2 linked regions of the Homo sapiens genome follow. The protein of the gene in region 1 purifies or fractionates together with the protein of each later gene. This does not show direct contact. Each region holds a gene or a part of one and is shown in the gene's direction. Other genes may lie near its edges.

Region 1 (3,500 bases):
AGTGAGGTAGCTGAGAACACTGGGTGTGGCCCGATCCCCTAGATTTGAAAATCTGCTCTGCCATTTTATTAGTTGGTGACCTGCCTTAGAGGATTGTCTCAGGAGTAAATGACACACTGAATGCAAAACAAGGAGTTGGGCACAGAGAAAGTGCTGAACAACCTTGTGTCATCTCACTTGCCCTAGCTATCCTCTACTCTAGTTCAGCCTTCTCTCTCTTTTTTTTTTTTTTTTTTTTTTTTTTTTGAGATAGAGTCTCACTCTGTTGCCCAGGCTGGAGTGCAGTGGCATGATCTCAGCTCACTGCCACCTCCGCCTTCCAGGTTCAAGTGATTCTCGTGCCTCAGCCTCCCAAGTAGCTGCGATTACAGGTGTGTGCCACCACACCTGGCTAATTTTTGTATTTTTTAGTAGAGATGGAGTTTTGCCGTGTTGGCCAGGCTGGTCTGGAACTCCTGACCTCAAGTGATCTGCCTGCCTTGGCCTCCCAAAGTGCTGGGATTACAGGCATGAGCCACTGCACCCAGCCCAGCCTCCTCTTTACAGATGGTGATATGAGATTCAGGGAATCTCATGAATGTGACATGAACCACACAGTGTTTCTAGCTGTGTGAACTTGAGCAAGTTGCTTAACCTCTCTGGGCTTTGGTTCTTTTATTTGTTAATTAGGGATAACAAGATCTATCTCCATGGGTTGTTTTGACAATTTTTTTTTTTTTGAGACAAGGTCTTGCTCTGTTGCCCAGGCTGTGGTACAGTGGCATGATCTCGGCTCACTGCAGCCTCCACCTCCTGGGCTCAAGTGATCATTCCACCTCAGCCTCCCAAGTAGCTGGGACCATAGGCACGAGCCACCATCCCCATGTCCGACTAATTTTTGTATTTTTCTGTAGAGCCTGGGTTTCTCCCTGTTGCCCAGGCTGGTCTCAAACTCCCAAGTTCAAGTGATCCTCCTGCTTTGGTTTCCAAAAGTGCTAGGATTATACGTGTTAGCCACCACACCTGGGTAATTTTTTTTTTTTTTTGTAGAGATGGGGGTCTCCTTACGTTGCCCAGACCCCTATTGGCTGATTCTTGCCCAGAAACCAGCTCTCTGGTGCCCACCCCTATCTTTTCAGGACATCACATCTCTTATCTTCAGTAGCAGAGTTGATAGGTTTCCTTTTCAATAAACCTATGTGACTTGTCATCCTTCTGATAGCTGTTATAGAAGGGAATGTAAATAAGTTCAAATCAATGTGTGGATGACAGATTTTTGTTTTGTTTTGTTTGAGACAGAGTCTCTGTCACTCAGGCTAGAGTGCAGTGGCGCAATCTCAGCTCACTGAAGCCTTGACTTTCCGAGTTGAGGTGGTTCTCCCTCATGTTGTCCAGGCTGGTCTTGAACCCCTGGGCTCAAGCAATCCTCCCAAGGTGCTAGGATTACAGGTGTGAGCCACTGCACATGGCTGAATGACAGATGGGTTCTAGGAAAGGAAATACTCTTTGGGTTACTTCCCAATAAGTGAGAAGACAGCGCTGTGGTGCCACGTGGGAGGAGGAGCCAGCATCACAGGCTGGCTGGGATTAAGCTGTTCTCTCCCTGGTCTTTCTGAAGGAGAGTGTGCCTGTGTCCAGTTACCAGCAGGCAGGAATTCCCGTGGACTTGAAAAGGAAGATTGCACGGCTGGGGATCAACATGCTCCTGAAGATGGTGAGCTCATGGCTGGAGCGGGCTCAGGCCCAGCATGTGGTCAGCTTGCAGATGGGGAGTGGGCTGGGACTCTGGCTATCTGGGTGGGAAGGAGAGCGAAGCAGCAAGCCGCCAGGTTGAGAAAGTCTGGTCTAGAAAGAGTGGAGGCTACCATAAATGGCCATGGTGTCTGTGAAGCTCTTTTATTTTTTTTTTTTTGAGATGGAGTCTTGCTCTGTCGCCCAGGCTGGAGTGCGGTGGCGTGATCTCGGCTCACTGCAAGCTCTGCCTCCTGGGTTCACGCCATTCTCCTGCCTCAGCCTCCCAAGTAGCTGGGACTACAGGCGCCCGCCACCACGCCTGGCTAATTTTTTGTATTTTTTTAAGTAGAGATGGGGTTTCATCATGTTAGCCAGGATGGTGTCGATCTCCTGACCTCATGATCCACCCGCCTTGGCCTCCCAAAGTGCTGGGATTACAGGTGTGAACCACCACACCCGGCCTTTTTTTTCCTTTTTTAAGATAGGGTCTCACTCTGTTGCCGAGGTTGGAGTGCAGTGGCAAAATCTCCATGAACTACAGCCTCAACCTCTTGGGCTCAAGTGATCCTGCCTCCTCACTCCTCAGCCTCCTGAGTAGCTGGGACTACAAACATGAGCCACCAAGCCTGGCTAATTTAAAAAATTGTTTTGTAGGGACTTACTATGTTGTCCAGGGCAGTCTTGAACTCCTGGGATCAAGCGATCCTCCCACCTTGGCCTCCCAAAGTGTTGGGATTACAGGCATGAACCACCATGCCCGGCCTCTTAAGTGCTTTGTCAGTGGCTCATGCTCTGTGTGCTGTGAGAAGAAGGGTGACCATGACCCAGTTCTGCCAGCATTGCCTGTAGTTTAGCAAACAGCTGAGACAATATCTTATTTTAAATGCTGCTTTGCTCATTTGTTCAGCAAATGTTTATTGAGCACCTGCTAGGTGCCAGGCACTGAATTAAGGGCTGGGGTTACAGCAGTGAGCAAAACAGACACAATTACAATGCTCGTGACATACTATTCCTTGGGAAGATAGGTGACGACTAAGTAAATGATTTATAGGGATAGGTACGGGGTACCAAAAGGTCATTTCGGAGGAGACTGTGCTAACCCAGGGATTCACTCAGGAAGTGGCTCCATCTCAGCTGCAGTGTGAAGGTCTAGGTGTCACTACATAAGGACAGGTGGCAGGGAGTTGTCTAGAGAGAATAGCCTTTGCTGAGGCCTGGGGTGAGCTACTGCATGGTGCTCTTGGAGAGACGAAAGCACTTAGTATGGCTTGGAAGAGAGTTTGAAGGAGGGGGCAGTGATTGCTGAGGCTGAGGAGGTGAGAGGAGGCTGAGGAGGTGAGAGGGGCCTGACCACAAAGGGTCTAGTAAATCTGTGAAAGAGTTTGGACTTTAATCCAAGGGCAGATAAGTTCATTTTGAAGATTTTTGCCCTTAACTTTAAAAAATTGAATTCCAATAATATTTAAATATAAAGTGCTCAGATCTTAAATGATGCTTAGTGAATTTTTAAAAAGCATCCCAGTGCCCAGATTAAAACATAGGAGAGTTTTGGCTGGGTGCAGTGGCTCACACCTATAATCCCAGCACTTCAGGAGGCTGAGGCGGGGAGATTGCTTGAGCCCAGGGGTTTGAGACCAGCCTGAGCAAGATGCCAAAACCCTGTCACTACAAAAAAAAAAAAAAAAAAATACAAAAATTGGCCACGTTTGGTGGCAGCATGCCTTTAGTCCCAGCTACCTGGGAGGCTGAGGTGGGATCACCTGAGCCCAGGAGATGGAGGTTGTAGT
Region 2 (3,500 bases), on another chromosome or scaffold:
ACCTTGGGCTGGGCTTGGGAGCTCCGGATCTCACCAAGGGACTCCTGGGGGCCTTGATTACTGCAGAGGTCAGCAGGCCCAGAGACCCCAGCCTCCCTGCAGGTCCTGGGGAGGGGTGGGGGCAATGCCTCTCCCGCCTGTTGGTGCCTGTCTGTCACTGCACCACTGCTTCAGGCCTCCCTTATATAAGCCCAGTTCTCTCTCTGGCCTGCAAGGGGTGGGCAGCCCAGAGGCCAGCGCCACTCGTCCCCAATCTCCCTTCTTAGGATCAAGAACCGGCCCAAGGTTGACATTTGGTGCACCAGGCCCCTGAGGGGCTTCAGGGCAAGGCCAGGGACCTCGGGGAAAATCCTCATCCTCTCCCCTCCATTCCAAGAGTAGCCTGGGCCCCTTGCCCTGGAGGAGCCCTGGCCCTGTGAGGGAGGCTGGCAGGCGCTGCCCGCTGTCACTCCATGCCGGTGCCCTTTGCTCCACTTCAGTGGCCACGTGACCAGGCCCCATTCCTGCCCTCTAGGGTTGTTGAGCAGCCACAAAAGGGGTGGTGCCAGCAGCTGGGGCACTCTCCCTAAGTGAGACTGGGACTTTGACCATGCCCACCCCCACCCACTGCCCAGCACAGTCAGGAAGTGGCTTAGCCTCCCAGCTCCCACCCGCTTCATCCCCACCTGCCTCCTGGGAAGGGGCCTCAGGCCCCACTCTGCAGTGGGTCTCCTCCCCCTCCTCTCCCCACCTGCCCCTAGCACTGCCTGTGTGCGGGCCCTCTCTCCCCTAAGAATCATATGAGCATGAAGGTCTATTTTGGGTGCGTTTAGGGAGCAAGGGATTCGGAGCCACATAGGCCTGGATGAGAGAATCTCAGCTCTGTGTGTTAACTTCCTCATCTGTAAAATGGGTCCAGCAGTAGCGCCCACCTCTGGGGTTCTTGTGGAGGTGAAAGTGGGGCAGGAGGGAAGCACAGGGTGGACCTGGCTATTGGTACCCAGTAAATGCCACCATCACCATCAGCAGCGGCATCACCGTCAGGGCCCGTGTTGGCCGTTGGCCACGTGGTGTAGACTTGGAGTCTGCAAGAGCTAGGTTTGAATCCCAACCTGCTGCTTACTATGTGGCCTGGGGCATATCACTAACCTCTCAGTGCTGGTCTCGTTGTCTGCAAAAACAGGGAAATACCTTGTGCTCATCAAGGCTGTTGGCAGATGAGAGACCCTGTGTGGGACTCGGCACAAGTGGGTGTTAGTGGTCGCTATGTTCTTCTCCAGGGAGACAGGTGAGGTCTTAGGAGTGCCAGCCTGATTGTCTGCTGGGGTGGCAGGGATGGTGATGGGGGCTGAGAGAAAGGCTGATCTTTTCTGCTGTTGGGGCCCCCAGCCCCATCAGCAGCCACAGCTCCTCCTATCGGGCTCTGTGCAGAGCTCTGGGTAGGGAGGGGTGGGCGGTGAGCTCTGGGCCTGAGACAGCCCCCTTCGTGTGGCAGTGGGGCAGGTCTCCAGGGCACAGGGGCTCCAACATGCTGTGATTCAGAGCCTACAAGCAGTGGGAGAGTATCAGATGCTGCCTGGGGGCTCAGAGGATGCATGCAGCTGTTGACAGTGTTTGAGCCACCAGCCATAATAAGAGCAAGCATTAGAGAGTGCTCACTATGTGCTAGGCACTGTGCTAATCATCACATGGAATTCTCACCACAAAGCAGTCATAAATAGATATAACAATCCCCATTTTCCTAATGAGCAAACTCAGGCCCAGAGAGGTTCCATGACTTACCCAGAGCCACACAGCTCCAAGTGCTTAAAGAGCCAGGTCTGGGTCCAGAGCTGGTTCTTTCACTCTCTTCTCTGTCAGGCAAGAGCGAGAAGAGCAGCAATACTAGGTTTAAGGGGAAGGGCATTCCTAGCAGAGGGCACTGTGTGAACAGAAGCGTGGAGGTGAGAGTCGAGCAGAATCAGCACTCTGGAGTGGCAAGAGCGCTGGAGACTCGGGGGCTTCATCATCCCACTTACTAGCTATGGGGCTGCTTACGCCTCCCTGGGGGAGGCTGTGCGTGGGGCTGATTCCTGCCTGTCTGCCTGTTACAGGTTACAGTGAAGGCCAGAGCACTGTGGACATGGGAATGAGTCCTCGTGTGGAGGGGCCTTTTCTAGAAATACTGTTGGGCCCCTGGGGCCCTTGGCACTGCAGGGCTCTAGGTAGCGCCCCCCCTTCCTCCTGGTTATAAGTGTTTCTGCCAGAGAGAGGCTCTTCCTGCCTTCCCCAAAGGAACAAGCCACAGACTGGACATGTTAGCAGGGAAACAGGTCATGGCTCCCCAGGGCACGGGGCACAGTGGCTCCAGCTTGGTACCATCTGCCACCACAGGTGGACCTGACTCCCTTGCAGAAGGAGGCCTGCTGCTGTCCCTGAGTTCAGGGCTTATTTTTTGGGGGGACAGAGTCTTGCTCTGTCACCCAGGCTGGAGTGCAATAGAGCGATCTCGGCTCACTGCAACCATTGCCTCCCAGGTTCAAGCGATTCTCCTACCTCAGCCTCCCGAGTAGCTGGGATTACAGGCGTGCACCACCATGCCCAGCTAATTTTTGCATGTTTAGTAGAGACAGGTTTTTGCCATGTTGGCCAGGCTGGTCTTGAACTCCTGACCTCAGGTGATTCGCCCACCTCAGCCTCCCAGAGTGCTGGGATTACAGGTGTGAGCCACCACACCTGGCTAAGTTCAGGGATTCTTGATGCTCCTTTTAGAGCATCAAGCTCTTCTCTTAGCCCAGGGAAAACTGGCCTCCCCATCAGGCCTGTAGATGGGAGGAGGTGGCAGGGCATCACCCACTGCTACCTGGCCTTTTGCAGTAGAGTGAGCTTCTCTGGACTCTCCATGGGCCCCAGCCCCACCTGGGGACAGAGCCAGGCACGCCCACCCCACCTTTGGGTCCTTCCCACCTGCCATTTTAGAATCCACTTGCCGAGGCAGGTGCCTGGCCCAGATCACCCCAGCTCAGGGGTCACTCTGGGAGGCCCCGTGCTGTCTCCTCTGCCGGGGGTCACTCCAGGAGGCCCTGTGCTGGCCCTTCTGCCATTGTGCCCACTGGATGCAACAACACCCCGGCGGGGAGAAACATTAGGAGCTGTTTCCACACTGGGGCTCAGAGAAGTTGATGCACCTCCCTGCCTTCCCCCACTGCAGGCGCTAGGTCCAGTCTCCCTGCCCCATCTCAGCCTCAGTCTCCTGATCTGTGAGTCCTCTTAGATGGGATCATCTCCAAGCCCCTTCTGAGAGGACTATTCTAGGATTCCAAAGCAAAGGTGCTAAACGGGGGACCAGCAAATTTGAAGTTTTCTTGCATAACTGACTGGGTTGTCAGGGAGACTCACATACAAATGAAATGGATGGAGAAAAATAGTGAGGCGGCTTGTCGGCAGCTCTGTGTGGGGCCCGCGTAGGAGCAGGACAAGAGCAAGGCCCAGTTGAATGAAGTGGGTGAGGAGGGGCTAGCCACCTGAAGCTGAGGCTGTGT

Evidence for each region. The genes of interacting proteins can lie anywhere in the genome.
Region 2: the proteins of ADCK2 (region 1) and PDK2 purify together in Homo sapiens (affinity purification with mass spectrometry; one large-scale study listed by BioGRID and IntAct). This does not show direct contact.

What each region holds. Positions count from the first base shown.
Region 1 is NC_000007.14:140,679,445-140,682,944, forward strand, and holds part of ADCK2 (uncharacterized aarF domain-containing protein kinase 2), read left to right. Parts: intron 1-1,597; coding exon 1,598-1,693; intron 1,694-3,500. UniProt on the Homo sapiens protein: The function of this protein is not yet clear. It is not known if it has protein kinase activity and what type of substrate it would phosphorylate (Ser, Thr or Tyr).
Region 2 is NC_000017.11:50,101,851-50,105,350, forward strand, and holds part of PDK2 (pyruvate dehydrogenase kinase, isozyme 2 isoform 1 precursor), read left to right. Parts: intron 1-2; exon of another isoform or gene 3-546; intron 547-3,500. UniProt on the Homo sapiens protein: Kinase that plays a key role in the regulation of glucose and fatty acid metabolism and homeostasis via phosphorylation of the pyruvate dehydrogenase subunits PDHA1 and PDHA2.